Linked DNA regions of Homo sapiens. The protein of the gene in region 2 purifies or fractionates together with the protein of the main gene of each other region. This does not show direct contact. Each region holds a gene or a part of one and is shown on either strand. Other genes may lie near its edges.

What was found.
Region 1: the proteins of ZKSCAN4 (region 2) and PARP4 purify together in Homo sapiens (affinity purification with mass spectrometry; one large-scale study listed by BioGRID and IntAct). This does not show direct contact.

What each region holds. Positions count from the first base shown.
Region 1 is NC_000013.11:24,453,481-24,457,294, forward strand, and holds part of PARP4 (protein mono-ADP-ribosyltransferase PARP4), read right to left. Parts: intron 2,999-3,814; coding exon 2,861-2,998; intron 1,733-2,860; coding exon 1,537-1,732; intron 175-1,536; coding exon 107-174; intron 1-106. UniProt on the Homo sapiens protein: Mono-ADP-ribosyltransferase that mediates mono-ADP-ribosylation of target proteins.
Region 2 is NC_000006.12:28,249,257-28,253,844, forward strand, and holds the start of ZKSCAN4 (zinc finger protein with KRAB and SCAN domains 4), read right to left. Parts: upstream 3,014-4,588; 5' UTR 2,725-3,013; coding exon 2,302-2,724; exon of another isoform or gene 2,289-2,301; intron 2,133-2,288; exon of another isoform or gene 1,609-2,132; intron 579-1,608; coding exon 431-578; intron 1-430. UniProt on the Homo sapiens protein: May be involved in the transcriptional activation of MDM2 and EP300 genes.

The DNA.
Region 1 (3,814 bases), on a different chromosome or scaffold from region 2:
GGAGTAGGGGTGCTCTGATGGTGGCTTGAGTGGCCTAAGCCCTGGAGGTCCCCTTAAAGCATGGTAGGAAAAGACCCAGGAGATACAGGAAGCCTCTTGCACTCACCATGATGAACTCTGCTGCCATGGTATTGCTTGTGATATGCTTAGGATACGAAAATAGCTCCTTGTAACCTGTGTAATAAGATCAGCATGAGGTGCTGCTTCCACACGTTCACTTGCTTGAGCACTAACAAACAATAATGTTATTTCATACCATCACGGCTGTTGTAAAGGATATTATATATTTATGTGTGTACCTTTCTTTTTAGAAAACTGTTTGATAATTTTAACATACAAAAGATTGTCCACAGGCCAGGCACGGTGGCTCATGCCTGTAATCCCAGCACTTTGGGAGGCCGAGGTGGGTGTATCACCTGAGGTCAGGAGTTCAAGACCAGCTCTGGTCAACAGGGTGAAACCCTGTCTCTGCTAAAAATACAAAAATTAGCTGGGTGTGGTGGTGAGCACTGTAATCTCAGCCACTGGGGAGGCTAAGGCCGGGAGGCAGAGGTTGCAGTGAGCTGAGATCGCACCACCGCACTCCAGCCTGGGCAACAAAGCGAGACTCTGTCTCAAAAAAAAAAAAAAAAAATTCACCACACTATTTTTCTAAATGATACATCATAGAGCATTCAAACCGTGGTGCTTTACTATGCAAAATGTTGAGTCAAATTCCATGTGCACATGCAGATCACTTGTGCAAATGTGCAGGGCATTGCAATGGCCTGAGCAGCTTGGCCCCTGGAAGGCCAGTCTCTGCTCACGCCCTTTGCACTCCCCATGCTTATCCGACCTCTGTCCCAGCAACAGCAGACTGTACCTCTGGGGAAAAGGGGCTGGGTCTTCTGCTGGATTGCACAGAGGATGAGAATCAATAGGATAAGACTGTCCCCTCACTCCACTCCACGCACCTCTCATCCCTGAGGTGCTGCCTTCTGGTGGCTGAGACGTCCCTGGGCCCCATCTGGAGGGTGGTACTACCTCCCTTCTAGCAGTGCTGGCCCGATACTTCCTGAGACCATTCCTTATAGATTTTCTATGACTGCGCTGAGGGCAAATGTTTTGTCCTTAGACTTGGGACCTCCTACTCAACAGACCAAGGGTTTTGTATTTGGTTCAGTTGCTAATGACAACAGTAGCATTTATATCTCACTTACTGTGAACAGGCACAGTTTAAAAATCCTTTACATACATTAGCTCAATCCTCCTCACAGCAACACTGTGAGTTAGGGACAATTATCCTCAGATCGCAGATGAGGAAACGGAGGCACCAGAAGTTCAAGTAGTGCGCCCAAGGTGACACACAGAACCTGTGAGTGGTACAGCTGGAACCGGGACCTAGGGGGTCCAGCTCCAGAGCTCTTGTTCTTCAATTTCATACTAGGCTGCCCCTCACCACACAGGCAGGGTCGGGTACCCACAGTTGTCAGCTCTACAGAATGTGATTCACATGTAGGGGAAGCACACGCAGGACCAGGGCCAAAGCGCACTCACCTGTGCCGAACTGGATAATATTTACTTTCTGCTTCTCACCCACCAAGGACAGCGCATGCAAGGCGATTTGCTTGGCTTGCAAGAATGTCACACCCTCCATGGAACTGGAGCAGTCAAGACAAATAATCACTTCGCTCTCACTGGCTAGGTCAGGGAGGTCGACATCGAGATCGGGTTGAAAGACAAGCATGCAAGCCTGAAAGGAGAAAGAAGGTGCTGGACTGGAGCTTCTTGTCACTTCAACTGCAAAAGGTCTACTTAGAAAACTCCAAAACTTTCTAGTGAGGTAAACTAATGCTATAAAAACAGAAAGAATAAGATGTAATTAACAACAAGATGGCCTACTAGGAGTTCCAGTCAAAAGTAGAATGTTAGAACTGGGAGTTTCCAACTTCTGACATAAACTTCTGAGAGGTCAAGAATTAGTATCTGAAAAATCATATAGCATCAACATTATGGAACAAATATATATATATATATATATATATATCACACTATTCTAAGAGGAATATACATGCCATTGTGATTACTAAAATACACACACATACCTTTTGTTCTATTAATTAACCAATATTTAACTACTATCATGTAAGTTTCCTTTTTTTTTTTTTTTTTTTTTGAGACAGGGTCTCCCTCTGTTGTCCAGGCTGGTATGCAGTGGCACGATCACAGCTCAGTTCAACCTCAACCTCCTGGACTCAAGTGATCGCCCTGTCTTAGCCTCCTGAGAAGCTGAAACCACAGGTGTGCATGACCACACCTGGCTAATTTTTTTTCTTAATTTTTTACAGAGACGAGGTCTCACTATGTTTCCCAGGCTGGTTTCAAACTCCTGAGCTCAAGCAATCCATCTGCCTTGGCCTCTCAAAGTGCTGGGATTACAGGTGTGAGCCACCACACCCAGCCTAAGTTTCTATTTTTATTTTAACTTAAGAAGAGACTCTTTGTCACAGCCACACAAAATGATCTTATTACCAACCACAAATAACTGCTTATTTGTTTTTCCAGTATCAGTATTTTAAAACTATAACAAGTTATAGAGAATACCCAATGTAATGTCTGATGGCACATGTTCTTTTGGTGGAGCTTAAGGTAAAAATGCGAATTTGTACAGGCAAATCATCCACATAAGGGTTTTGGATGAAACGTCAGAAGTTTGGCATGCTTGATATCATAAATATTTTTAGTTGCAGAATCTTGAGATGTGAGAGTTCATTTTGTAATGCTAGTTTTTCAGGACAATCAATAATTTGCAAGTTTAACCAGCTTATTCTGAAACATTTTTTCAATAGTGTCTCCTATGTCTAAGTAAAAAGGAGTATACCTCGCTTTCTTTTTCTGGATGTTTTTCAACCCACATTCTTGGGAGATAGGCAGCAGACAAACCGATGTGGAGAGAAAATCCACTGCTGTCTAAGGAGCTGCCTTCCATGGTGCTAATGACAGCTTTGCAGTCTGTGCGCTGCAAAACAAACACCGCGACAACAAGGTGAGTAATGGAGTAACACCATATTAGCAGTCTGCACTTACCTGTCATGGAGCAAACCCTTGCATAGCTTACATAACTCTATTAAGAATCAACAAAGTAGTGGTAAATTCCAAAATAATGAAATGTAGGCCGGGTGCAGTGGCTCACACCTGTAATCTCAGCACTTTGAGACGCCGAGGTGGGTGGAGTTTGAGGCCAGCCTGGCCAACATGGTGAAACCCTGTCTCTACTAAAAATACAAAAAATTAGCTGGGCGTAATGGTGGGCACCTGTACTCCCAGCTAGTCAGGAGGCTGAGGCAGGAGAATCGCTTGAACCCAGGAGGTAAAGGTTGCAGTGAGCCAAGATCGCGCCACTGCACTCCAGCCTGGGTAACAACAGGGAAACTCTGTCTCAAAACAAAAACAAAACAAAACAAAACAAAAAAAACAAAATAACAAAATGTAGGTTTTAGAAGACCATGAGCATATCAGTCACCCTTCTGCAATCCTAAGGTTGATTCACACGGTCAAATAAGTGTGAGACAGTCTCAAACCCTGGATCCAAAGATTATAGATCTACCCATTCAGTTAGACTTATCTGGGTATAGCAGACGGCACATCAGATAATTAAAACCGAGAAGACTAAAATAGAAAATTCAACAGAAATCTTAGAATCATAACTTATTTGTATATTATATTTTCATGAATATAAAAAAGCTGTTGAAAATGTAAATAAGCTTTACAACAACAAAGGCAAAGGCATGTGCTAGAGTGTCACATGACCACAAAGTCTCTCCACTCCTGTCTG
Region 2 (4,588 bases):
GCCTTATTTTCTTCATAGCACTTAACAATATCTAAAATTATATTATTAATTTATTTTCTATCCTCCCTGCTAGAATGTAAGCTCCATCAAAGCAAGAATTCTGTCTTATTGGTGGCTCTCTCCCCAGTGCCTACAACACTGGCTACCATAGATGAAGGCTCCCTAAATATATCTAATGAATGGAGATCACCATGTTGTTTAAAAAACCGATTCTTTCTAGACATCAATTTTAATAAAATCAGATTTACTATGTCCTAGTTTGGTTAGGAAAGTTTTTCACCATTGTTTGAAATTTCTCTTAGTCTCAGTCTTAAAATACAGCTCTCTGTGATGAGTATATAAAGTAACTGTAAATGGATCTTTTAGGTGATCCTTAAATGAAATTGGATGAAGTCTATAGAATTCATACAACCCAGAAGAGAATACTCACCTCTATCGTGTAAGGGCTGGGATCCCAGAGATTCATGCTTGAACAGAGCCTTCATTGGCTGGCACTGGCTACTTTGAGACCCTTGAGTTTGTGTCAATAGTGCCATCTTGCAACAGAGCAGTTCTTGCCCCTGGTCACCAACGGGAACCTAGAAGTCACGATTTTTAGTTATCTACCCAACATTTCTATGTTTTCCATGTGCAAGTGATTTCTATTTTCTAGGCACTGTTTCTACAAGCCTTATGATATTAACACAATTAATATAGATAACAACCCTGTGAGCTATTATTTTGGATTTTTATGATAAGTTGCTGAAAACGGAGATGTGGCCCGGATCCTCTCTCCTGAGTGGACAGCATTTTTTTTGTTGTTGTTGGTTTTTTTGTTTTTTTTTTTTTGAGACGGAATTTCACTCTTGTTGCTCAGGCTGGAATGCAATGGCATGATCTCACCTCACCGCAACTTCCGCCTCCGGGGTTCAAGCAATTCTCCTGCCTCAGCCTCCCTAGTAGCTGGGATTACAGCCATGTGCCACCACGCCCGGCTAATGTTTTGTACTTTTAGTAGAGACCGGGTTTCTCCATGTTGGTCAGGCTGGTCTCGAACTCCCGACCTCAGGTGATCCGCCCACCTCAGCCTCCCAAAGTGCTGGGATTACAGGCGTGAGCCACTGCACCCAGCCAAGGGTGGACAGTGTTTAAGCAGCTTGCCCATGTCACCCAGCTAATAAGTGGAAATGCTAGGATGGGAGCTCAGACAGAATGACTCCAGATCCCGTGTTCTTACCATTACTCTAGGCTCCCTCATTATATACATCTGTGTGTTTACGAAAACCCTTTGGACACTGGTGCTAAATTCTCAATACTAATATATTTTCTAATCTGAAAAATGAGGATAATAATTTCTACTTTATGAGGTTTTGGAGACCAGTAAATAAGATCACAGTATGTGACATCACCTAACACAGGGCCTGGCACATAGTTATGTCCTCATTAAAAGCAGGTTTCCTTCCAGACATTGATAGTTAAATTACAGTTTTCAAGTTACTGTCTCACGTGCAGCTCAGAATTTCCCACATATTTTATGAAGAATGAAGCTAAGAGATTTGCAATGACTTCCCACTGCTACAGGGCTTGCGTGCAATAGACCTAAGTCAAGAACCTTGGTATCCAGCTCACCAGTTAGAAGATTTGGCCACACAGGTCCTCTGAAGTTGTGTGCACAGGGACACAGGACGATGCAAAGAGGAAACAGTCCCTCATAAAACAGGGAAGAACATGGAGGTAAAAATAGGCCCACTTTCTACCAGAGGTTCATAACCAGTGGTCCATGGACTTTCTCCCAAGTGGTCCATGAACTTAGAAAGGACAAAAACTAATCTTATTTTTACTGGTCTTTAAGAGAGAGTTAACATTTCCTTCAATTATGAATGGAAGCAACAAATCAAGGTAGCATAAGCAGTACCCAGGACTTTGTCACCAACAAAACCTGCACGTTTTCACACCACATTACAACCAGGCAAATAGATGCTTATCGCCATTTTGAAATTGCCAATTATAAGCCCTGTCCCTAGGTCTTATTATTTAGTGCAGTAATAAAAATCCACATATATGACTTTAATACAAATTTAATTCTTTGCTAACTGTATGTCAATATAGTTGTGTTCTTTTGTAATCCTTTATAGTTTCTTTATATATTTAAAAATATAATTCTGAGAAGGAGTCCAGGGACTTCACCTTACTGCCAAGGAGGTTCACAGTACAAAAAGAGATGAAGAACTCCTGGACCTTAAAGGAATGCCCCTCGCTCCGATCTGGGATTTCAGGAGGAAACAGACCACAGCGCTCAGATACTAAACCTGTTCTTTCTACCTGCGGCGCCGGCTCATCCAGCTGCCTCTCCAAATACTCCAATAGCACCACCACCTCCTCCCCGCTCTCTGGATGCTGCTCCCGCACCCAGCTCTGCAGATTCCCCGGCAGGATGGTCAGGAACTGCTCCAGCACCAGCAGCTCCAGGATCTGCTCCTTGCTGTGCATCTCAGGCTGCAGCCATTGTCCGCAGAGTTCTCGGAGCCGGCTCAACGCCTCGCGGGGGCCCGCAGCCTCCGGGTAGCGGAAGCCTCGGAAGCGCTGGCGGGAGCGTTCGGGGCCCCGAGCAGGGCTGCAGGGTGCTCTCACCTCCGCCGTCAAGGCGGAGGCTTCCTCCTTCTCCACCTTCACGGTCAGGAGCCCCGTCTGGTCTTCTGCAGACTGGGCGTCCAGGGCTGCGTTTTTTCTCGGTTCTCTAGCCATTCTGACCCAAGGCAGTACTCGGGTCTCACTCTAGTTGCGACCTGTATATCTTCAGAGGATTCTGGAAGGGTGGTAAATTTTCCAGTAGAACTGCAAGTGGTCCCCCTCCTGTCATGCCCAGGGGCCCAGGACACCCCCTGAGGCGCAGCTGCACAGATCTCTCTTATAGTCCGTGCCTTTGCAGGGTCGTCCTCTGCACCCCACTCTGAATCCCACAGTAAGTATCACCAAAGGATGTCTTTGGGAGTGAAAGTGATCACTCTCCAGACATAGGAGGGAAGTTGAGGCTGGGGCACAGGAAGTCTCGATGGGAACTAAGGCCACTTCCTGGGCGCTCTAGGAAGCTTCTCTCGGTGGTTGTCTCCGAATTAACCCATTAGCTACCCTGTCCTTACCTCCACGCAAGGGAAGGCAGTTAAGGGATAGAGAAGGAAAGGATGACAGACCTTGGATCATAAGAAATAGGACTGAGCCTTTAAATCCTGGAAGGATGCCGCTGCGGCTCATATTTCTTTCCTATGTAAAGCTTGCTTAAGCAGCTGGCATAAAATTGACACTAAAATTGAGCTGGAAAGCAGGGGTTCCCCAGAGCCCCAAGAACCCTGGCAGGGGGACCTTTAGTCTCTCTCAGAAACATCAAAGCAGCAGAACACATCACCAGGCACTTGCCTGGAGCGAGCAGTGGCTGCCCTTGGTCCTTCCCCACTCACCCCCTTAATCTGTCACTTTTTTTCCTCCTCCTTAAGGCCAGACTACTCCTCCCGACCCTGACTGTAGCCCTCACCTCCCACTAATCCTCAACACACTGTCCCACTCCCCCACTCACCACTTTGCACATTCCATGGCTGCTTCTCTGGCAATCAGGCTTATGCTGCTCTCCACCTCCAGAAACTCTCTAGTCTCTGGCTTCAGGGACCCCATTCTCTTCTGCTTTCTTCCTTCCTGTTTCTTCCCAGCCCCCAATCACAGTCAAGCACAGTGGCTAGATACGCAGGTAGCCAGGTTACCTGTGTAATCCTGGCTTACCCTCCCTGTGCCCGACTTTTCCAATCTGTAAATAGGGAAAGTAATAGTAGATAGGGATGTTGTAGGCATTACTAGGGATTAGATAATGTTGTGAGCACTCTTGTGTAAAGTGCTTAGAACAGTGCCTGGCATGTGATAAACTAGGCCTATCCTATAATAGAAGAAAGCCCTGAGAATTCTTTGAACTAGATGGGACTCGATTTTAAGCCATAATTGACTGTAAGTTATTTGACTGGACACTTCAGTAAGCCCCTTTCTGCCCAGTGGAATGGAGAAGCTACAAAATGCAAGTTCAGTAGTTTATGAGGGGAAAAAATATCATGTCAGTACTTTCTTGAGTTTTTCTTTCTTTGCCTATGCCTCTACATTCCAAGGATTAAGAAATAACATAACTTAAGAAAATGAGAAGTCCCAAAGACTGTTGCAAATGAAAAATACTACAAAATATCTTTCTCTTGATGAGCTACCACAGAAGGTAGGGGGCACTGCCCATGAAGTATCCTTATAAGTGAACTTGAATCTAAGTACTTTTCTAGATCCAAATATTTACAGAAATAAGTTAAGTTAGCAGTTTTCACACTCTGTGTCACACAGAATCACTGGGGAGCTTTTAAAACATCCTGATACCTAGGCTGCAACCAAGATCAATTAAATCAGAATGTCACAGGATGGGACTCAGGCATTAATAACATTTTTTGGTTGTTTTTGTTTGTTTTGCGACAGAGTCTTGCTGTGTCACCCAGGGCTGGAGTGCAGTGGCGCAATCTTGGCTCACTGAAACCTCCACTTCCTGGGTTCAAGTGATTCTAGTGCCTCAGCCACCCGAGTAGCTGGGATT